Linked DNA regions of Homo sapiens. The protein of the gene in region 5 purifies or fractionates together with the protein of the main gene of each other region. This does not show direct contact. Each region holds a gene or a part of one and is shown on either strand. Other genes may lie near its edges.

What was found.
Region 1: the proteins of MED1 (region 5) and SPAG5 purify together in Homo sapiens (affinity purification with mass spectrometry; one large-scale study listed by BioGRID and IntAct). This does not show direct contact.
Region 2: the proteins of MED1 (region 5) and ZNF326 fractionate together in Homo sapiens (co-fractionation; one large-scale study listed by BioGRID). This does not show direct contact.
Region 3: the proteins of MED1 (region 5) and MED12L purify together in Homo sapiens (affinity purification with mass spectrometry; 3 studies listed by BioGRID and IntAct, with this or other methods). This does not show direct contact.
Region 4: the proteins of MED1 (region 5) and RPAP2 purify together in Homo sapiens (affinity purification with mass spectrometry; 3 studies listed by BioGRID and IntAct, with this or other methods). This does not show direct contact.
Region 6: the proteins of MED1 (region 5) and RALY fractionate together in Homo sapiens (co-fractionation; one large-scale study listed by BioGRID). This does not show direct contact.
Region 7: the proteins of MED1 (region 5) and POLR2B purify together in Homo sapiens (affinity purification with mass spectrometry, with the first as the bait; one large-scale study listed by BioGRID). This does not show direct contact.

What each region holds. Positions count from the first base shown.
Region 1 is NC_000017.11:28,579,543-28,582,056, reverse strand, and holds part of SPAG5 (sperm-associated antigen 5), read left to right. Parts: intron 1-1,936; coding exon 1,937-2,048; intron 2,049-2,219; coding exon 2,220-2,306; intron 2,307-2,514. UniProt on the Homo sapiens protein: Essential component of the mitotic spindle required for normal chromosome segregation and progression into anaphase. Required for chromosome alignment, normal timing of sister chromatid segregation, and maintenance of spindle pole architecture.
Region 2 is NC_000001.11:90,033,104-90,036,065, forward strand, and holds the end of ZNF326 (DBIRD complex subunit ZNF326), read left to right. Parts: 3' UTR 1-2,430; downstream 2,431-2,962. UniProt on the Homo sapiens protein: Core component of the DBIRD complex, a multiprotein complex that acts at the interface between core mRNP particles and RNA polymerase II (RNAPII) and integrates transcript elongation with the regulation of alternative splicing: the DBIRD complex affects local transcript elongation rates and alternative splicing of a large set of exons embedded in (A + T)-rich DNA regions.
Region 3 is NC_000003.12:151,088,663-151,092,200, forward strand, and holds part of MED12L (mediator of RNA polymerase II transcription subunit 12-like protein), read left to right. Parts: intron 1-3,538. UniProt on the Homo sapiens protein: May be a component of the Mediator complex, a coactivator involved in the regulated transcription of nearly all RNA polymerase II-dependent genes.
Region 4 is NC_000001.11:92,326,554-92,330,091, reverse strand, and holds part of RPAP2 (putative RNA polymerase II subunit B1 CTD phosphatase RPAP2), read right to left. Parts: intron 1-3,538.
Region 5 is NC_000017.11:39,406,259-39,409,796, reverse strand, and holds part of MED1 (mediator of RNA polymerase II transcription subunit 1), read left to right. Parts: coding exon 1-2,322; 3' UTR 2,323-3,538. UniProt on the Homo sapiens protein: Component of the Mediator complex, a coactivator involved in the regulated transcription of nearly all RNA polymerase II-dependent genes.
Region 6 is NC_000020.11:34,073,889-34,077,426, reverse strand, and holds part of RALY (RNA-binding protein Raly), read right to left. Parts: intron 1,554-3,538; coding exon 1,387-1,553; intron 726-1,386; coding exon 612-725; intron 400-611; coding exon 182-399; intron 1-181. UniProt on the Homo sapiens protein: RNA-binding protein that acts as a transcriptional cofactor for cholesterol biosynthetic genes in the liver. Binds the lipid-responsive non-coding RNA LeXis and is required for LeXis-mediated effect on cholesterogenesis.
Region 7 is NC_000004.12:57,023,893-57,027,430, reverse strand, and holds part of POLR2B (DNA-directed RNA polymerase II subunit RPB2), read right to left. Parts: intron 3,427-3,538; coding exon 3,319-3,426; intron 2,546-3,318; coding exon 2,432-2,545; intron 2,055-2,431; coding exon 1,894-2,054; intron 1-1,893. UniProt on the Homo sapiens protein: Catalytic core component of RNA polymerase II (Pol II), a DNA-dependent RNA polymerase which synthesizes mRNA precursors and many functional non-coding RNAs using the four ribonucleoside triphosphates as substrates.

The DNA.
Region 1 (2,514 bases), about 11 Mb from region 5:
TAGATATTTAGGAAGCAGAGGCAGTAGAACCAATTTGATGTAAGAGTGACCAATTTGATGTGAGAGTAAGTTAGAAGAGTGAATGATGATCCTTAGATTGCTAGGAAAGAGGGCCCAGCGGGTCAGCTGTGTTAGTGTGTGGAGACTAGGGCTAGTGACACCTCCGGGTCAGCTCTGTGCCCAGGAAGCACTTCAACCTGTGTGGCAGGAGGGATAGCAATAGGAAGCACTTCAATTCCCCACAACTCAGACACCCAGACGGGAGGGCAGAGGACCAAGGCTGAAAGGAGTAGAGAGCCTGAGAGAGAGATGAGACTGAGGGGAGCTAGTGGTGACTCAGGCTAACCAGTCAGCGGGAGAGACCTAGACCGGGGGGCAGAGAAGGCGGGAGAACTGGAGAGAGGACCTAGCCTAGGAGGAGAGGGAGCAGGCTGAGAAGGAAATGCTCTGGGTAGGAGAGACAGACTCCAAGGAAAAATCCAACAAGTAGAGGAGGATTTGGGATTGGAAAAGCTGAGGTCCAGCTGGGAGAGCTGAAGAGGGATAGAACAGAAGAGGTTGAGCCATGGGGTTTCAAGTACGCGGAAAGGAGCAAAGATGTTAGGAAAGGGTCGAAAGGGCACATCCCGGAGTCCCAGGTAGCAGGACGAGGATGGCAGGGGAAGAGCCAAGGAAATGAAGCGGAGATGTTGAGTGGCTCCCGCCTTGCCTGGCCTTACCTGTGCGCAGCCAGTTAGCAGCCGCAGCCACAAGCACAGCTACTTCAGGACTGAGGCCAGCAAGCTTTTCCTATAAATGGCCATATAATAAGTATTTTTGGCTTTTTGGGCCATATGGTCTCTGTCTCAACTACTCAATTCTGCCTTTGTAGTTCAAGAGCAGCCATAGATGATACAGCCATTAATGGGTCTGGCTGTGTTCCAATAAAACTTTATTTACAAAAATAGTTGGCAGGCTAGATTTGACCTGTAGGCCACAATTTGCTAGCCTTCCCTCTCCCTGCTCTAGAATAGTAAATACAGGAGTAGGAACAGACTTTTGATAGGGTGTTCCCTATCAGGGCACAGGGAAAATGGTGAACTCAGCTTCATACATACTAAGTTGACAGATTGACTGTGGAACCTTCTGGTAGATTCTTCACAGGCAGTTAGCCTTTGAGTCTGCAGACTGGGAAAAAGACTGGGAAAAAGTTGAGAGAGGGATGGAAGAGTCATTCATGTGGAAGGGAAGTTTGAAGTAGATGTTTTTGTGATGCTCCCAAGGCAAGGCCACCCTGGGAATGAATTAGAGTAAATTTAGGGCCAAGGACTTAACCCAGAGGATCCAGCAGTTAAGGAAGGACCTGTGAATAGAGAAGAAATAACCAGAAAGGTGTGGGGCCTGCCTTTAAAGGAGAGAGACTCATGTCCTGGAAGCTAAGAAAAGGAAGTTTCTAAAAGAACAATGTGGTCATCAATATCAAATAGGTCAGGTAAAACAAGAGCTGAAATATATGCATTGCATTTGAAAGTAAGGCTGCCATTGGTGAACCAAATGACAAGAATTTAGGTGGAATGACAGGGGAGAAGCCTGAGTGTAGTGGGCTGGGGAGTCAATAGATGGTGAGAGTTATAAACAAGAAGTATAGGCTCTTTTTTTCTTTCTTTTTTCTTTCTTTCCTTTCTTTCTAGAAAAGGCAGTAGCTAAAAGGGGATTTAAGGTAAGAAGAAGGGTTTTGTTTTGTTTTGTTTAGGTTTGTTTTTAAAATACTGCTGTTTTTGTTGGAGAGGCTTAAGAATATAAACATGTTCAGAGAAAGGCACTAATGGAGAAGTTGAAGATAGAGAATTGAGATAATAGGTGGAACAGCATTTTGGAGGAGATGGCTGGGAGTTACCTGGAAGCCCAGGAGTTCACTAGACCTGAACAGCAGCTATTTTTTCTTCTTTGCCCTTAGACTGAACAAGAGACCCTTCTGCTGAGTACAGCCTGTCCTCCCACCCAGGAACACCCTCTGCCTAATGACAGGACCTTCCTGGGAAGCATCTTGACAGCAGTGGCAGATGAAGGTTAAAGGCCCTGGGATTTGGGGGTGGGAAAGTTGTGACGCTGCTCCTGATATCTTCTGCTGTTGAAGATGTCCACCAGCGGGCTTGTCTATCTTACCCTGGCTTCCATTATGGTAGACCCCTGCCTGGATCATCAGAGGGGCCCTCTCCCATTATTGGTTTTTCTCTTAGAGCCAGAATCAACTCCTGTGCCCTTGCTTGGAAGTGACAAGAGTGCTTTCACCCGAGTAGCATCAATGGTTTCCCTTCAGCCCGCAGGTTAGGAGGGGCTCCAGGGATCCTGCCTCATTTCTAGAAAATCTGGTGGTGATGAGTAAAGACGAAAGCAGTGAGAAGTGCTTTGCTCTAAAAACCTCAATTCTACTTGGGCTCATTTTATTTCTGCCTTCTGGGATCTGTAATGTTCCAGACATTCAAATCCTGTGGGTGGGGAACACGGATAAGAGTTGTGGAAATGATGGCTATA
Region 2 (2,962 bases), on a different chromosome or scaffold from region 5:
CAGATAATGATACTGAGAAATTTATTGGTTGGAAAACTGCTATCTACAGGCCTTCCACTACCTATTTCTTAGTAGATTTTACATTTTTAAAGGGTTGTAGAACACCAAAACAATATATGACAGATACTGTGTTTGGGCCTTAAAGCCTACCCTTTATATAAAAAGTTTGTTGACTCCTAGGCTCTCATTTGCAAGTAGACAAATGAGAAACAGCAAATATTTAAGGAAAAGAGCAACATGAAAAATACACAGCAAACTTAACAAGCAGAAAGAATTCCTGGGGAAACAATTCAGGGGGAAAAAATGACCAAGTATAATTAGTATTATATGGAATAATAATTACTACTACTTATAATAGTTTCATATGTAATCCTCATCATATTATATGTCATAATCTTCAAATATTTTAGAGGTTATTGTACTAATTTTAAAAATGCAAGTTGCTATAAAGAAGTATCTTGGAAATAAACAGTTGTGAAAATAAACTCTGTTTTAGGCTGATTAGTTGAATAAACATGGCTGAGAATCAAATTACTGAGCTAGAATTTTGAGCTGAAGATACTTCCAGAGCTTACAAGAAAAGATAAAAAAGATGGAAGTTACAGTAAAAGACATAGATGTATCTCTTAAAGACATAGAAAACCCAGAACACCATCTGTTTAAAAATTAAACTTCATGAGATTAAGAGCCATATGTATAGAGAATTCACCATTGAATACCCTGCATATATCACAGTGCCAGGTAAATACTATGCAATAAATATTTTTGAATGTATGTATGTATGTTACAGTATAAATATATAGAGGAGTTCCAGAAAGTGAAAAAAGAAGTGAAGAATAGGAAAAAAAAAAAAATCTTCTGATGAAAGATTCATATTAGAAGTCTCCAGTGCTGAGCAAAAACAATGAAAAAGTCATGCAGGATGAATACTGACAAAATATGTGTAATCCCAAGCTTAGAAAAATCTCAAAATGTCTAAAGAGAAACAGTGTACCTATAAGGGGAAAAGAATCACATTGGTCTCAGACTTGTCATCTGTTCGTTGGAGTGCTACAACATACTGCTATTTTTGAAGTTCTGAGGGAGAACTGTTTTGAATTTAGACTTCTATCTTGAGTGAAACTGTCAAGAGTAAGGGCACAGCAAGGACATTCTACCAATTTTAGAACATGCAAGGATTTCAGAAATTAACTCATAAAACACAACCTGCACGGCATGGTATCAAATTATGTAAAGAAAAACTTGGTAAACAAGAAATTGTCAAATTTATAATCATAGCTACGTATTTGAACACAGCGCTTAGAAATTGTCAGATAAAGAGTTCAAAATAGAGGAAACATTTTGAATTATATAGTGCACAAATTTTAATAGCTATAGAATATTTGTTTTCAAATGCCATGAAAAAATGACCATGAAGCAAAAACCACAATATTTTTTTGTTTGTTGATAGGTAGGAATTCAGGGTCCATCCTGTCATCACAATGCAATGAAACAAAAAATTAGCAAGTGGATAGCAATAAATCAATTTTTAAAAATCAGACAAAAGAAAACACTGTCCTTGTAATGCTTGCATTTAAAAGGAAATAAAAACTTATGAAAGAGAATCTTTATTTTATTTAAGCAGTTCTAGATTATACAAAATGTTGAAACATCTCAATTTGGTCTCTGAGGCTAGCATAATCCTTATTCCAGAAAATTGTTCATCAAAGATAGCTATAGACCAGTCTCACTTACGAACAAATGTAATTTGTTGAAACTGGTCATGTTGAAAAAACATGACCAATTAAATATCCCAAAATAATGTGTCATGGTAGAGTAGGGTTTATCTGAAAACTGCAACATGACGATTATGTAACTCAATCCTTTAGGAAATTTATTACTTTAACTTAAAAAAAAATACCATAAGCTTGATAGATGCTCGAAAAACATTTCCTAAGATTGAACACATTCCAGATTTAAATTTTTCAGGCTGAGAATAGAATAAAGCCTTTGTAACTTGGCTAAGGACTAGGAAGGTCTTCCAGAAAGCTTCATCAAACATCTGCATTCAAGTCAGGATTAAGACAATAATGACTGTTGCCTATGCAACAATCATTTAACCCTAAGAAATAGAAGTATTAGGAAGAGAAAACATAGTCCTTATTTTGAGCAGTGTGATTGTAGAGACAAACATCCAAGAGAAACAGTTGAAAAACTATTAGAAATGACAAAAGGTAGTTTTGTTTAATAGTTCACCATGAAAATCTGTACTATATAGAAAATCTGTATATAGAATATAGCATTGGCCAATTGGAAATGTAATTTGAAAATCCCATTTGCAGCAAAACTTGGAACTGTATACTGTCTAAGAATAAACAATGGGAAAAATGCAAAATCCTTATGAGGAAAATGATACATTTTAATGGAGGAAATAAAATGCCTGAATAAACACTGTGTTCCTGTCTGAAAAATATTGTCTGTATGCCAGTTATCTTCAGATAATTCATAAATTACCATTCCAATTGTTACTTAGAGTTAGTAGTGGTGGCGAGAGAAAGTTAAAAATACCAGCTTCAGGAATATTGAAGTGTCTTTCTCATATATATAAGTTCAGATAGACAAGGCAGGGCTGGTGTCACCCTTCAAGGTGTCAGAGACTGAGGCTCCCTCTATCTTGTTACTTTGCTGTCTTTAAAACCTTATCTTTGGCCGGGCGTGGTGGCTCATGCCTGTAATCCCAGCACTTTGGGAGGCCAAGGCGGGCAGATCATGAGATCAGGACATCGAGACCATTCTGGCTAACACGGTGAAACCCCGTCTCTACTAAAAATACAAAAAATTAGCTGGGCGTGGTGGCGGGCGCCTGTAGTCCCAGCTACTCGGGAGGCTGAGGTAGAATGGTGTGAACCCGGGAGGCAGAGCTTGCAGTGAGCCGAGATCATGCCACTGCACTCCAGACTGGGCGATAGAGGGAGACACCATC
Region 3 (3,538 bases), on a different chromosome or scaffold from region 5:
GGATTTCAGGGTCTCACAACATTTTATGGAGTTCTAAAACTGGAAGCGACCTTAGGGACTACTTTCTATAACTTCCTTTTGACTAAGTGAAACAGGCCTGGGAAAGCTTGACTCGTTTAACCAAGGTGTATAGGTGAATAAGCAGAGGAGTTGTACCACCAAACCAGTATTTATGTCAAAACTAATACTGCTTTGAGGATGATTTATGCTAAATTATCTTCTGATGTTATCCCCTTTCCCCCAAGGCAGCCAATGTTTTAACTCTCCCAAGCAGACAGAGTTATGTGTGGCTGTAGCCAAATTTGGGTACAATATGGAACAGGTGCTTGGCTGTTCTTGGGTGGTTGGTGAGTAGAGTTTCCTAAGCTTTAGTTATTTATGTCCTACCTCCCTCAAGATTTCTACCCTACCCCTGTACCACCTGTACTTTTATTCTGAAGTTTTCTTTAAACTAATTTTTTAAGAAACTTTGTGTTTCCTGGGCAGTACTACACGTGGAGTCATGGATTTATTGAAATATATGTATATATAAAATTTATATCAAATCATGTTTACATACTATTTTTAATCTATTTGATATTACATGCACACACGTATATGATTATACATAATAAAATGAGACCATTACTATTAACACTTTAAAAGTTCATCTGTGTATCGAAAACAACAGTTGTGTTCCATTAGAGATAGCTGTGGTGGAAAATGCTGATTTAATGGAGGAAGTGTGGGCTTCCAAGTTGGGCCAACCTGGATTTAGCTTTTTTTTTTTTTTTGCAATTGTGTGGCCTTGGGCAAGTTGCATAGCCTCTCATTTGTAAATTAGTTTGTGCACTTCAGAAAAAATTTCAAACCAACATTTGTGTGAGAAAAGCCCTCCTCCTGGTAGAAGTTATTCTTGTCACCATAAATGTAATTTTTATTGTTGTTGTTAACCAGTGGTAATATATTTCAGAAAAGGGCTCCCAGAAGGTAGGGTGGAACCCATGAACGAAGACCCATGTGGAGAAGTATGGGGGTGGGGCGGGGGGGAGAATATGGAAGCTTTAACCTGCCTGATGGATTGGTTATATTTTTTTGAGAGCTTGCTGTGCATCAGCATCCTGTAGGACTTCATTATATATTGTGTTATAATACTTTGCTTCCTACAAACAGACTGTGCTCAAGCCTTTAAAGCAGGGAATCAGAAAACTGGCAGTCATCCTTGAGACCTCCTCCTTGCTTATACCCCATTCATCCATCAGCGTCTCTACATCCATGCGCACATCCTGTTCAGTTCCAAAATATATTTCCAATCCACCAGATGCTCTCCAGTTTCACCAGTATGCTTGGTCTCCCTTCTGGCTTCAGGGTGACTTCTCTTCCCCAGGGCTCCTGCATATTCTGTTCTGGTCTTTCTGCCTGGACACCTGTCTAGCCACCCCCTCCCACTTAGCATTCCACTCAGCTCTTCTCACCTTAGCCTGTGGTTAGAAAGGTAGGCTCTGGTGCCAGTCTGCTTGGGTTGGGACCCTGGCTGTCCTGTTTATGTGCCCCTTATTCTCCCTATACTTCATTTTCCTTCCATATAGAGTGAGAGTGATAATACTACTTAACTCATAGGGCTGTTGGAAGATTACCTAGATAGTATATGTAAAAAGCACTTAGAACAGAATCTGTCATAGATTCAGCCCCTATATGTTTGCTGTCATGAACTACTGTCATGCCTGCCCCTTCATCATTCAAGTCTCAGGCTTTTCTGATATATCATTTACAATTATATACTTATTTGCATCTTGCCATCTCCCCCTAATAGGTCAGTTTCATGAGGGCATGGATGAGGTCTGTTTTGGTATGGCAGAAGTACCTGGCACCTGCACAATTAGTTCCTAGAAGGCTGAGGGCACAAATATTTATTGGAACATGAATAAACTTGGGATGAATAAATTAAAAAGGGAAATCCGGTGACTGAGGGCTGTTGGGGAAAGTCAAGGTTAAAGCTGAAAGTATCCTTTGCATCTATCTGCTTTGGAGCCTAGGTTAAGCCTGAAAGTAAAATTAAGCTCCAGAAGTAGGAAGGAAGAGGAGGTTTACTCTGGGACAAAAGAGACTGAAACAGGGCCAGGCGTGGTGGCTCATGCCTGTAATCCCATCACTTTGGGAGGCCGAGGCGGGTGGATCACCTGAGGTCAGGAGTTCGAGACCAGCCTTAACAACATGGTGAAACCCCGTCTCTACTAAAAAATACAAAAATTAGCTGGGCATGGTGGTAGGCGCCTGTAATCCCAGCTACTTGGGAGGCTGAGGCAGGAGAATCTCTTGAACCCAGGAGGCGGAGGTTGCAGTGAGCCGAGATTGTGCCATTGCACTCCAGCCTGGGGGACAGAGCAAGACTGCATCTCAAAAACAAAACAAAACAACAACAACAAAAAACAACAGAAAAAGAGGCCGAAACATTTGAAGAGTAAATATGTGCAGAAAATCAAATTTGTTAGAAAAATGGGTTGGGGCAGTAATGAGATTTCCGGGAATCAGGAGCTGTAGAGCCCCACCAGCAGGGACCTACGGGAATAATGGCCTGGTGTGCAGTGCAGGGGCTGCCCGAAGATATACACAGCATGACTTAGGAGAGCTGGTGGTGATGGTGGTGTCTGCATGCGGATATCCCAGAGTGGTGGTTCTTCAACTTCAGAGGACATTCAGATTACCCTGAAGGCTGGTTGAAACAGATTGCTGGGTCTCTAAGATTCAGTAGGTCTGAGGTCAGGCCTCAGAAATTGCACTGGTGACAAGATCCCAGGTAATCTGATGGTGCTGGTCTAGGGCCCCACTTCGAGAACCCTCACCTAAAGGGAAGACATCCAGTTCTGCAGGGGCTAGAGCATTCTGCTTGATACGAGCAGGGCTGGATTAGACTTCTATGTATGGCTGAAGTTGCAGTAGTTTGGTTTAACAGCCAACCCAGCCAAGATTTGGTGTTCTTGTCCCAGAATTTGTGCCCTCTCTTAGTTCAGATCTAAGGGAATGGACCAGGAAGTCTCAGTCCCCCTCCAGTGGCTTTTTCCATTACACTTGAAATAAAATGCAAACCCTTTACCTTGGCCTTCAAGGCCCTACCAGTCTGGCCCTTGTTCACCTCTGCAGTCATTGCCTGCAGCCAAACAGCCTGGCTTTGAGTTCTGGCTACTCTGTTTACTGCCTGTTTGACTCAGCTTCCTCAACCATGGAATGAGGTTTGTATTTCTTCCAACTTCATAGAGTTGCTGGGAAGAGAAAATGAGCTAATGTATGCAAAGTGTGTAGAATCGTGCCTGTCACACAGGCAGCACTCAACACAGGTCAGCCACTATTAGCTGATCCCTTATTAAAGGATGCTGGGGGTCTCCTGTTGTACTTAACCATAACAGCCACAAGATCCTGCCTTTCAAGATCTGGGCTTTGAGTCACCCCTTCCAACTTGCTGTGTGGTGGGACCACAGGCTGCCTCTCTCTTCTTCCAACAGGCCTAGCTTCTTTGTGTATAGGTTCCTGTCCCTTGCTCCCTGCAGCAGTTTTGTTTCCT
Region 4 (3,538 bases), on a different chromosome or scaffold from region 5:
CATTCCCACTTGGTCCACTACAAGCAGCACTTCCTTGGTACAAGACCTTGTGGTCCACTCCTACCTTTTTCCTTGAGGTCTAGGGGTGGTGAGGGCTCTCAAACTATGATTAGTGTATCATTCCTTTGGTTTCCTTCATTCTGACCACATTTTCACGCTTTGGAAAACAGTCCTATAATTAAACTTTCCTCAGATTACTTAATTTGTACCATGTGATTTATGATGAGACCATGACCAATTCATACGCTAATGTCACTCATTCTGAAAATATGTGCAAAAATTCTAAGGCAAATATTAGGAGGACCAAATCCAGTATTATATAAAAAGGCTATTATAGCTCAATCAAGTTGAGTTTATTATAAGAATGCAAAGTTGGTTTAATATTAAAAATAAATGTTAGGTCTGGGAAAAAATAGCAGATAGGAGGCAGGACTAACTTGCAGTTCCCACTTGGTCAGACAGAGCGGCATGTGGAGACTCCCATCATGAACTTTTGCTCCAAGAACTACCGCAGAAACATACCAGAAAAGGCAAGGAACTGTGAGTCAGCTTGCTTTCTCAGCTGGGAGGCCTGTAGCCTGGGGCAAGTTCTCAGCCCTGCTCATCAGCTGCCTGGAAATAAACTTGGTGCTGTTGTGGGGGCACGGTGGGAGTGAGTCTGGCCTTTTAGGCTGCAGGCTGTGTGGAAGCTGGGTGAGGCCTGTGGTTGCCAGCTTTCCCCCACTTCCCTAGTGACCTGTGTGATGCAGCAGAGTCAGCCATAATCCACCTGGGAACATAACTCCATTGGCCTGGGAATCACACAATGGTACCCCCACCTGATGGTCTTTCTCTACTGGCCCTGGTAGCCGAAGACAAAGGACTTAATCTCTTGGGAGCTCTATGGCCCTACCCACTGCCTGACCCCAGAGCAAGCTTGTATCCTCCCTATCCTACTGCAGCTGATGCACTCTTGAAAGCACCACCTCCTGGCTGAAGGCCAACCAACACAAAACCAGCGCACTTAAAAAAAATACAATTAAGGACCCTCACAGAGTCCACTTCACTCCCCTGTACCTCCACTGGAGCAGGTGCTGGTATCCACAGCTGAAGACGGATCACATCACAGGACCCTTTGCAGACACTCCCTAGTACCCGCCAGAAGCCTGGTAGCTCTGCTGGGTGGCTAGATCCACAAGAACAATAACAATCACTGCAGTTTGGCTCTCAGGAAGCCCCATCCCTAGGGGAAGGAGGAGAGCACCAAATCAAGGGAGCACCCTGTGGGACAAAAGAATCTAAACAGCAGCCCTTGAGTCCCAGATCTTCCTTCTCACAGTCTACCCAAATGAGAAGGAACCAGAAAAACAATTCTAGTAATATGACAAAACAAGGATCTTTAACAACCCAAAACATCATACTAGCTCACCAGCAATGGATCCAAACCAAGACAAAATCTCAGAATTGCCAGAAAAAGGATTCAGAAGGTCAATTATTAAGCTAATCAAGGAGGCACCAGAGAAAGGTGAGGCCCAACTTAAAGAAATCAAACAAATCATACAGGATATGAATGGAAAAATCTCCAGTGAAATAGATAGCATAAATAAAAAACTATCACAACTTTGGGAAATGAAGGACATACTTAGAGAAATGCAAATGCACTGGAAAGTCTCAGCAATAAAATTGAGCAAGTAGAAGAACTTCAGAGCTTCAAGACAAGGCTTTTGAATTAACCCAGTCCAACAAAGAAAAAAGAATTTAAAAAATGAACAAAGGCTCCAAGAAGTTTGGGATTATGTCAAACAAACAAACCTAAGAATAATTGGTGTTCCTGAGAAAGAAGAGAAATCTAAAAGTTTGGAAAACATATTTGAGGGAATAATCAAGGAAAACTTCTCCAGCCTTGCTAGAGACCTACACATCCAAATACAAGAAGCTCAAAGAACACCTGGGAAACTCATCATAAAAAGATCATTGCCCCGGCACATAGTCATCAGGTTATCGAAAGTCAAGATGAAGGAAAGAATCTTAAGAGCAGTGAGGCAAAAGCATCAGATAACTTATAAAGGAAAGCCTATCAGATTAACAGCAGATTTCTCAGCAGAAACCCTATAAGCTAGAAGACATTGGAGTCCTATCTTTAGCCTCCTTAAACAAAACAACTGTCAGCCAAGAATTTTGTATCCAGCGAAACTAAGGTTCATAAATGAAGGAAAGATAGTCTTTTTCAGACAAACAAATTCTGAGAGAATTCACCACTACCAAGTCAGCACTACAAGAACTGCTAAAGGAGCGATAAATCTTGAAACAAATCCTGGAAATAATACCAAAATAGAATCTCTTTAAAGCATAAATCTCACAGGACCTATAAAACAATAAGACAATGAAAAAAAAAAAGCTGTTCAGGCAACAAATAGCACGATGAATAGAATAGTACCTCACATCTCAATACTAACATTGAATGTAAATGGCCTAAATGCTCCACTTAAAAAATACAGAATGGCAAAATTAATACGAATTCACCAACCAAGTATCTGCTTTTCAAGGGACTCACCTGACACATAAGGATTCACATAAACTTAAGGTAAAGGGTGGAAAAACATATTCCATGCAAATGGACACCAAAAGTGAGAAGTAGCTATTCTTATATCAGACAAAACAAACTTTAAAGCAACAGCAGTTTAAAAAGACAAAGAGGGACATTATACAATGATAAAAGGACTAGTCCAATAGGAAAATATGACAATCCTAAATAAATATGCATCTAAACCTGGAGCTCCCAAATTTATAAAACAGTTACTACGAGACCTAGGAAATGAGATAGAAAGCAACACAATAATAGTGGGGGACTTCAGTACTCCACTGACAGCACTAGACAGGTCATCAAGACCTGTTCCTGAATGATCACTAGGTCAACAATGAAATCTAAGTAGAAATTAAAAAATTCCACTGTGGTCTGAGAGAATATTTGATATAATTTTGATTATACCCTAGAACAAATGGATTTAACAGATATTTACAGAACATTCTACCCAACAACAGCAGGATATACATTCTATTCATCAGCACATGGAACAGTCTCCGAGATAGACCATATGATAGGCCAGCTGAACTTTGTAACAATTCCAAATGAACAGGAAGTCTCCTGGCCAGAACTCAAGGGAGGGTGTGAATCTGGTGTGCAGACTCCACAGGCTGGGAGATGTGAAAGCCCTACTTGTTCTCACAGGTGAGAGGCTGGTAGCCTGGGGCAAGTTCTCAGCCCTTCCTGCCCACTGCCTGTAAACAAACTTGGTGCTGTTTGAAGGGACATGGTGGGAGTGAAACTGGTCTTTTGGGTTGCATGGGAGCTGGGTGAGGCCTGCCACCAGCTTTCCCCCACTTCCCTGACAACCTGCATGACACAGCAGAGGCAGCCATAATCTTCCTGGAATAGCTCCACTGACCTGGGAACCACACTCCCATCCCCCACAACAGCCACAGCAAGCCCTGCCCAAGGAGTCTTGAGTTCAGACGCACATAGCCCTGCCCCCATGACGGTCCTTCCCTACCCACTCCG
Region 5 (3,538 bases):
GATTCTTCAAGCTCTGGGCATTCTCAGAGTACCCTGTTTGACTCTGATGTCTTTCAAACTAACAATAATGAAAATCCATACACTGATCCAGCTGATCTTATTGCAGATGCTGCTGGAAGCCCCAGTAGTGACTCTCCTACCAATCATTTTTTTCATGATGGAGTAGATTTCAATCCTGATTTATTGAACAGCCAGAGCCAAAGTGGTTTTGGAGAAGAATATTTTGATGAAAGCAGCCAAAGTGGGGATAATGATGATTTCAAAGGATTTGCATCTCAGGCACTAAATACTTTGGGGGTGCCAATGCTTGGAGGTGATAATGGGGAGACCAAGTTTAAGGGCAATAACCAAGCCGACACAGTTGATTTCAGTATTATTTCAGTAGCCGGCAAAGCTTTAGCTCCTGCAGATCTTATGGAGCATCACAGTGGTAGTCAGGGTCCTTTACTGACCACTGGGGACTTAGGGAAAGAAAAGACTCAAAAGAGGGTAAAGGAAGGCAATGGCACCAGTAATAGTACTCTCTCGGGGCCCGGATTAGACAGCAAACCAGGGAAGCGCAGTCGGACCCCTTCTAATGATGGGAAAAGCAAAGATAAGCCTCCAAAGCGGAAGAAGGCAGACACTGAGGGAAAGTCTCCATCTCATAGTTCTTCTAACAGACCTTTTACCCCACCTACCAGTACAGGTGGATCTAAATCGCCAGGCAGTGCAGGAAGATCTCAGACTCCCCCAGGTGTTGCCACACCACCCATTCCCAAAATCACTATTCAGATTCCTAAGGGAACAGTGATGGTGGGCAAGCCTTCCTCTCACAGTCAGTATACCAGCAGTGGTTCTGTGTCTTCCTCAGGCAGCAAAAGCCACCATAGCCATTCTTCCTCCTCTTCCTCATCTGCTTCCACCTCAGGGAAGATGAAAAGCAGTAAATCAGAAGGTTCATCAAGTTCCAAGTTAAGTAGCAGTATGTATTCTAGCCAGGGGTCTTCTGGATCTAGCCAGTCCAAAAATTCATCCCAGTCTGGGGGGAAGCCAGGCTCCTCTCCCATAACCAAGCATGGACTGAGCAGTGGCTCTAGCAGCACCAAGATGAAACCTCAAGGAAAGCCATCATCACTTATGAATCCTTCTTTAAGTAAACCAAACATATCCCCTTCTCATTCAAGGCCACCTGGAGGCTCTGACAAGCTTGCCTCTCCAATGAAGCCTGTTCCTGGAACTCCTCCATCCTCTAAAGCCAAGTCCCCTATCAGTTCAGGTTCTGGTGGTTCTCATATGTCTGGAACTAGTTCAAGCTCTGGCATGAAGTCATCTTCAGGGTTAGGATCCTCAGGCTCGTTGTCCCAGAAAACTCCCCCATCATCTAATTCCTGTACGGCATCTTCCTCCTCCTTTTCCTCAAGTGGCTCTTCCATGTCATCCTCTCAGAACCAGCATGGGAGTTCTAAAGGAAAATCTCCCAGCAGAAACAAGAAGCCGTCCTTGACAGCTGTCATAGATAAACTGAAGCATGGGGTTGTCACCAGTGGCCCTGGGGGTGAAGACCCACTGGACGGCCAGATGGGGGTGAGCACAAATTCTTCCAGCCATCCTATGTCCTCCAAACATAACATGTCAGGAGGAGAGTTTCAGGGCAAGCGTGAGAAAAGTGATAAAGACAAATCAAAGGTTTCCACCTCCGGGAGTTCAGTGGATTCTTCTAAGAAGACCTCAGAGTCAAAAAATGTGGGGAGCACAGGTGTGGCAAAAATTATCATCAGTAAGCATGATGGAGGCTCCCCTAGCATTAAAGCCAAAGTGACTTTGCAGAAACCTGGGGAAAGTAGTGGAGAAGGGCTTAGGCCTCAAATGGCTTCTTCTAAAAACTATGGCTCTCCACTCATCAGTGGTTCCACTCCAAAGCATGAGCGTGGCTCTCCCAGCCATAGTAAGTCACCAGCATATACCCCCCAGAATCTGGACAGTGAAAGTGAGTCAGGCTCCTCCATAGCAGAGAAATCTTATCAGAATAGTCCCAGCTCAGACGATGGTATCCGACCACTTCCAGAATACAGCACAGAGAAACATAAGAAGCACAAAAAGGAAAAGAAGAAAGTAAAAGACAAAGATAGGGACCGAGACCGGGACAAAGACCGAGACAAGAAAAAATCTCATAGCATCAAGCCAGAGAGTTGGTCCAAATCACCCATCTCTTCAGACCAGTCCTTGTCTATGACAAGTAACACAATCTTATCTGCAGACAGACCCTCAAGGCTCAGCCCAGACTTTATGATTGGGGAGGAAGATGATGATCTTATGGATGTGGCCCTGATTGGGAATTAGGAACCTTATTTCCTAAAAGAAACAGGGCCAGAGGAAAAAAAACTATTGATAAGTTTATAGGCAAACCACCATAAGGGGTGAGTCAGACAGGTCTGATTTGGTTAAGAATCCTAAATGGCATGGCTTTGACATCAAGCTGGGTGAATTAGAAAGGCATATCCAGACCCTATTAAAGAAACCACAGGGTTTGATTCTGGTTACCAGGAAGTCTTCTTTGTTCCTGTGCCAGAAAGAAAGTTAAAATACTTGCTTAAGAAAGGGAGGGGGGTGGGAGGGGTGTAGGGAGAGGGAAGGGAGGGAAACAGTTTTGTGGGAAATATTCATATATATTTTCTTCTCCCTTTTTCCATTTTTAGGCCATGTTTTAAACTCATTTTAGTGCATGTATATGAAGGGCTGGGCAGAAAATGAAAAAGCAATACATTCCTTGATGCATTTGCATGAAGGTTGTTCAACTTTGTTTGAGGTAGTTGTCCGTTTGAGTCATGGGCAAATGAAGGACTTTGGTCATTTTGGACACTTAAGTAATGTTTGGTGTCTGTTTCTTAGGAGTGACTGGGGGAGGGAAGATTATTTTAGCTATTTATTTGTAATATTTTAACCCTTTATCTGTTTGTTTTTATACAGTGTTTCGTTCTAAATCTATGAGGTTTAGGGTTCAAAATGATGGAAGGCCGAAGAGCAAGGCTTATATGGTGGTAGGGAGCTTATAGCTTGTGCTAATACTGTAGCATCAAGCCCAAGCAAATTAGTCAGAGCCCGCCTTTAGAGTTAAATATAATAGAAAAACCAAAATGATATTTTTATTTTAGGAGGGTTTAAATAGGGTTCAGAGATCATAGGAATATTAGGAGTTACCTCTCTGTGGAGGTATTGACTTGTAATCTCATTTTCCTTTCAAAAAAAAAAAAAAAAGCTAAGGTGGCTTGTTGGGATGTAAACATGTTTTCAGATGCAGTAAGGTTTAGTGTAGGACAGCCTTCCTGACCCAGTGGCATGAAAACCATTACAGGATTAATAGTTCTCCTACTTCCACAATGTGCCAAAAGTCTGCATCCCAGCATTTTGTTTGCAGGAGAACTGATGCCATTCCTAAGAGCTGGACTCACTGTTTCTCTTCATCACAAGGAGAAGGAGTCCAAACTTTAATCACTCCACTGTATGCTCCCTGAGATAAAACAGTAAAAAATCCGCAGCCATAGTTCACTTAAAACAA
Region 6 (3,538 bases), on a different chromosome or scaffold from region 5:
TGAGATAGGCAAGTGCCCCCTGCTCATTCTTCCCTCTTTCCCCCAGGACCAGAACCCCTGGGAAGGAGAGAACAGGAAGTTCACAGTGGGGGCAACCAGCTCAGGCTGCCCATTCCCCTGTTGGCCTCCTGAGAGTAGGAGCACAGTCGAGTCCCAGTCGTGCCCCTGGCCAGGCCCTCACCAGCTCTTCCTCGCTGTGTGTCAGGAGCCCTTCCTCATCGCCGTCGTCTCGGGTCCGTGCTTCCCCCTGGGGCAGGCCTGCCTCAGAAGTTGTGTTCTCTTGGGGGGCTGGTGGCCGGCTGCTGCCACCGCCACCGCCACCACCACTGCCACCGCCACCGCTGCCACCACCACCGCCGCCGCCGCCGGCGCCACCTCCATCACCCTTCTTCTTGCCATCTTGAGGGGAAGGGGTGGAGGAGGGGAGAATAAAACTCAGCCTGGGGTAGCTGTCTAGGGCAGCACCTTAGCGGAAGCTGGCCTCAGCATGGTGAGTGCAGGTGGTCCAGGATCTGCAGGGCCACCCTAGCTCCTCTCTCCCATGTACTATTTCCCCATGCTCTGCCCTGTGCCCTGGTCATGGAGGTGGGTGAGAATCCTCAGAGGCTGACCTGGATTGGCCTTTTGCTCCGCAGCGATCTGCTCCAAGCGGCTCAGCAGGGCATCGATATTGGACTTGATCTGTGTCAGCTCCGTCTTGATGGCCTGCAGCTCACTGCTCTTTACTGGGAGTGGAGGGGGGACAGGGCTGTCACCTAGGGGGCTGGAGGCTTGACACTAGCACAAAACCTCAGCCCTGTTCTTTCAACCAGGAAAGCAGTTATTTTTTGTTTTGTTTTGTTTTTTCCCTGCTTAGGAAAAAGGTCTCCTCCTTAGACTACCTGGCGTCCATCCCTACAGTGACAGCACACACTTCTGAACCTGGCTATCTTTTCTCCTGATCTCTCAACTCTGAAAGGGACCAAAGACAGACAGGAGCACAGGTGTGTATGTGTGGTGTGCTCTTCTGTGTGCACCTGAGCAAGAACATGTGTCTTTTGGAATCTGAATTCCTGGGTGATTAGTTAAGCAGCATGTGTGTACCAGAGTGAATGTGGAGTAATGGGCCTGGGTAGACCTGTCCTTATCCTTACTAGAGGAAAGATGGCACCATTTCTTCACTGGGCACCATATCCAGCACTGGACTCTCTGTGCCCAACACAACCCCTCCTCCTAAAACATCAGCTGTTTCCTCTTAGAAATGCATGAAAATACTTGGCTGTGTTAGAGCAGCAGAACTGTGGAAGACTTGTTGTTTTATCTATGTTCCAATGTAAAAAATGTGATTCTATTATTTTGCTAATGATAAAAATGCAAATTACTTAGGAATATGATACAGTCACTCACACTTGATCTTGGCTGAGCTGGTGGTGACAGCTGTGGAGCGGGCAAAGAGCTTGACAGGTACGTTAGTTTTGACACGCCGGACCAAAGGGACTGTGACCCGGGGTCGCTTCACAGGGACCGCCCTGGGCACTGGCACGGGCGACAGACGGCCCCGGTAGTCGAAGAGCCTGTGAGGGCAGATGGGCCAGAGGCTGCAGCATGGCTTGTGGCCACCAGGGCGGTATTGCAGCTCCGGCTACAAACGTGTGTGGCTGGTGAGGGGCTGGGAGGCCTGCACTACACACCTCTGCTGGCTCCTAGCAAGCCCTGGAGTGAAGAGGAAGGGCTTGCCGGACCCTGATGGCTGTTGGGATCCTCACTACCTCACTACAACCTCTCCAACCATCCAGGCCCAGTAAGGGCAGGCAAGGCATCAGGTGGTAGCAGTTATACCCCATTCAAAAGAGGAGACATCCCTAGGTCCCCTGGCACCCAGGCCTGCTCTATTACATGACCTGGCTTCTGCTTGGTCAACTGCCACCCCAACCTCTGCTCAGAGTTTGCAAATCTCAAAGCAGCACAAATCCCCAGCTAGGAATAGAGAGGTATGGGAGTGGGGGTCAACTGAGCCTACCTGAGCCTCAGTTTCCCCATATGCCAAATGAGGATGGCTATCCACATTCAGTGTCCACCCAAGGGCACAGCATGAAAGAATTCGGTTAAAAACACACTTTAGAACGTGTAATAGATGAAAGGTCAGGGTACTGAGACCCTCAATTCACGAACCCATGACCTCAGAGGCATAAGACTGAACTCTAAGCCCTTTCCTTACTTGACCTCCTTAATCACCACATCCTTCGTGCTCCATTCCAGAGACAAAGGCCAGGGGCTTGGTAGAGTATCAAGGTTGGGCAGCTCAATCAGACCCCCCCAGGGCTCCCAGGCTGTGCACTGCCCCCAACCAAAGTCATCTCCAAGCCCTCTCTAGGAGGGCTTCCTTTCCAGCTGACCAGGCAGAAACTCAGTAGGCTGAGAAGTGGTCTCTCTGACATCTGTTGCTGCCACCTTTTTCAGGGAATCGCAGCCCAGGGGGTAAACTTTGGGTCAATTTTCCTGACAACGGCCAGGAAACCTGCCATCACTGGGCAAAAGCCCCATTCCTTGGGGCTCCTTTGTTCAGGGAGCCCCTTCCTGGAGGTGGTGATGGCTGCAGATGGAGAGTCTCTGGGAATGGATCCGATCCCAGACCCTGCATTTCTGCCCCCAAGGGGAGGGAACGGCTCTGGCCTTGGTCAGAATCACTGAACCACAGAATCCCAGAGCTGGAGGAGCCTGGAGAGATCACTTGGTGCAAGCCCATTTCACAAACTGGGAAGGGAATTTGCCCAAGATCACATAATCCATTCAGTGGCAGAGCTGAGATTAGCATCTAAATCTTCTGACCCCCAGGCTAAGACACTTTCCACTACACCACACTGTCTCCTGAAACGACTCACAGGGGCGGGGTGGGGATGGGGGCGGACGACTCATGCTCAGAGAGGCACTGTTCTTCTTGGGCTGCCTGGGGTGGGCTAAGCTGGACAGAGGGAGAGAAGCAGGGAGGAGGAGAGATTTGAGTTAGTATCTACCATGATTTCTACTCAAGAATGTGGCTAGTGCTGTTGTAGTGGGAGCCCACAGCCTCTGGGCTGGAGTCTGGGTAGGGCTTGGGAGTGCAGGGTAGACCACAGCCCGCCAGGGACTAATTAGACTTCCAAATGGCTGCTGGCCTCTTGTCTCTAAATATAAACCCAAGAAGCTTAGACTGAGCTCTGGGGCTCCTACCAGCTGCTTGGGCACCTCACAGAGGGAAGGGCTCAAACTCCCTGCAACCAGCGCTGTACCCTGTTGTGTATTCCAACTAGCCACACTTACATAGCTCTTGGCTGTACGGTCTCCTTGAGCCTCACCCAAGGACAAGAAGGAAAAAGGGCAGTTAGCATGGCAGACAGTGTTGTATGGTGGTAGGAGCTCTGGCCTGAGCACCTGCAGCACAGGACCCCAGTCTCAGCTCTGCTACCGACTGGTGGAGCAACCCCAGGCAAACCTCTGGGTTTTGGTTCTCATTTGGAGAACTCAGTGGGCTGCACCAACAATCTCTCAAGACCCTTCCAGCTTGGCTGTTTCATGCCTG
Region 7 (3,538 bases), on a different chromosome or scaffold from region 5:
GAGGCTGAGATGGGAGGATCACCTGAGCCTGGAAAGTAGAGGCTGCAGTGAGCTGTGATTGTGCCACCACACTCCAGCCTAGGCAACAGGGATGAAACTGTCTCAAAAAAAGGGAAGGGGTGGGCTGGGCGTGGTGGCTCTTGCCTGTAATCCCAGCAATTTGGAAGGCCAAGGCAGGCGGATCACTTGAGGCCAACCATTTGAGACCAGCCTGGGCAAAATGGTGAAACCCTGGCTCTACAAAAAATACAAAAATTAGCTGGGCTTGGTGGCGCACACCTGTAATCCCAGCTACTTGGGAGGCCGAGGCACGAGAATTGCTTGAATCCGGGAGGCGGAGGTTGCCGTGAGCCGAGATCGCACCACTGCACTCCAGCCTGGGTGACAGAGTGAGACTGTCTCACAAAAAAAAAGCCAAAATATTCCTCTCTTTCCAACCACTTATTTGCATGAAATTAGAACTTCCTCATATACTTAAATATAAAAAATAAAATACTACAATGGAATGAATGCAGAAGTAGATGTAAGAATCCAGCTGTTTCTATTAAGCCAGGTCATTAGAGAGATTCGCAAAAATGTAAACCAATGTTATTCTTGTCACTAAATTCATCTGGAAAATAGATATATTTTTCATTAAACATGGTTTTTTGTTTTGTTTTGTTTTGTTATCGAGACAGAGTCTCACTCTGTCGCCCAGGCTGGAGTGCAGTGGCACGATCTTGGCTCACTGCAACCTCCACCTCCTGGGTTCAAGCAATTCTTCCCTCAGGCTCCCGAGTAGCTGGGATTACAGGTGTGAGCCACCACGCCCAGCCAAAACATGTTATTTATGTTAACACGTAATGAGCTTATTAGCATTTTTAAAACAATAAATTTAAAATCTCAGCTTTAACTTCTAATATGATAAATATCAATAAATACAACTCACATAAAACAAAAGCATTTTGGGTTCCCGGGATCAAGACATTTGAGAACCATTGTTTTAAAGATATACACTGAAAAATTTATAGGAGAAATTATATGATGTCTGGGCTTTGCTTAAAAATAATCAAGAGGGCTGGGTGCAGTGGTTCACGCCTGTAATTCCAACACTTTGGAAGGCTGAGGCTAGAGGATTGTGGCCATGAGTTCAAGTCCAGCCTGGGCAACATAGTGAGACCCCCGTCTCTACAAAATTTTTTGTTTTTTGTTTTGAGATGAAGTCTCACTCTGTCACCCAGGCTGGAGCACAGGGGTGTGATCTCGGCTCACTGCAACCTCCGCCTCCCAGGTTCAAGTGATTCTCATGCCTCAGCCTCCCGAGTAGCTGGGATTACAGGTGTGTGCCACCATGCCCGACTAATTTTTTGTATTTTTAGTAGAGACGGTGTTTTGCCATGTTGACCAGGCTGGTCTTGGACTCCTGACCTCAGGTGATCTACCCGTCTTGGCCTCCCAAAGTGCTGGGATTGCAGACATGAGCCATTGCGCCTAGCCTCTACAAAAAAAAAATTTTTTTTTTAAAGGTGTAGTGGCACATGCCTGTAGTTAAAAAAAAGGTTGGAGGACAACCAATAAATTCAAAAAAGGACTTAAGAGACAATATTAATTTAGCTACTTGGGAGGCTAAGGTAGGATTGCTTGTGCCCAGTTCAAGGCTGCAGGGAGCTGTGGGCATGCCACTGCACTCCAGCCTGGGTGACAGAGTGAGACTCTGCCTTTAAAACATGATGATAATATCAAAGGTTAGAAGGACAGAGATGAATGCAACAAGACTGGCCATCAGTCGATAATTGTTGAAATGGGGGTAACAGGCACACAGGCATTCACTATACCACTATCTCCATTTTGGTGTGTTGACATTTTTCATAATATAAGGTTAATTAATAATAATGATGATGATACAGTTCTTACCGAGATCTACCCTCCATGGGCTGTCTATTGAGGATCTGAATAGGTCCCCTAGCACGAGAGTGAATCTTATCATCCACCATATGCTTCAAACGCTGGTAATAAGTGGGGCCAATAAATATTTGTGATGTGATTTTTCGACCAGTGAACCCATTGTACAGGACCTGCAACAAACACAGATTTTGAAGTGTAGACCTAAAAATTAAACAACGTCAAAGAAGATATGTGTATATATTGTGTTACTCCATTTATATAAAAATTAAAGCACAGAACTAATCTATAATGTTAGCAATTAAGAGAGTAATTAGCTTGGGGTGGGAGTGGAAAGGTAGCGACTAAAAAAGGTTCAGTCGCTACCTTCACATTTTTAGATCTTGGTGTTAGTCATGCAGCTGTGTTTACTTTGTGAAAATTCATCAAGCTGTACATTTCTATATGTGCACATATGATACTTCAATAAAAGGTTACATTGTTTCAGAATAAAACTACACACATACAAAAAAAAACAAGTGGCAAATTACTACTATAAGAGCAAATATACCTCATTTCCTCTGAGATGATAGCCATAATCAGATAAAAGATTAGAAATCTTCTGCACGTTAACAGCATCATTAAATGGAGTGGCATCACCAATTTCACCCTTGTTAGCCGATACCTTTTAAAAAAAAAAGTACTCTTTAAAATGTTGCTTCAGTCTGTCTCCCCCTAAAAGTCATATCAATAAAAATGCATTCAAAAAATTTTTAAATACTTTTAAAATTTGAAAGTATTATTTTAAGTATTTTAAAATTCAAAGATTTTGAACTCAAAATCTATGTTATGGAAAGCTGTGATATATAAGGTTCATTTTATAACCTTACACAAAACATTTAGAACAAATAAACTTGCTTAAAAAAGAAAAACTCAATTATAAGTATTCAAATAGAAGTCGATCCATGGGATCAGGTACAAAAAGAGTGAGACTCCTAAGTACTTCAGATGGCTCAAAGGAAAATGACATTTTAATGCCCTAAAACCAAGCCATCCATATGTTAGACTATTACCACTTTACCTTAAAAGAATACTTAAAAATAGAAAACCTCCACCAAAAGATGTATGCAGAGCTGATAATAGAACTATAAAATTATTAAGTTCACATTGAACTCTCCATCAACAAATTAACTGTTCATCTACAGAAAAGAACTAGTCAAAAGGAAAATCACATATGTATTAGTTGAATGTAGTATATCTCACAAAAATTCTGACTTGTCCATAACTTTGCAAATTGCCAAAAAAAATGGCAGAATCATAAGCAATTTGAAAGCAGAAAAGTAAGTCTCACACTAGCTTTTTACAAAGTACCCTGGCTCAAATGTGAGAGCAATCACCTATCAGAGTTTTAGAAGAAGCATCAGCTTAGAATCTATATTTTTGAAGAACATCTCTTACCTTCCCTTGAAGGCATTCAATTAAGTGACCAATAGTCATACGAGAGGGGATGGCATGGGGATTGATGATGATATCAGGGGTGATACCTTCACAGGTGAAAGGCATATCCTACAAAGAAAAATTTTAAAAGGGACTCAAAGATACATATACTAAACTAGAACTGACATTTCAGTTCTCCCAACTGAATTACTGTATGTCCCAAATTCTGTTTAAACATGGT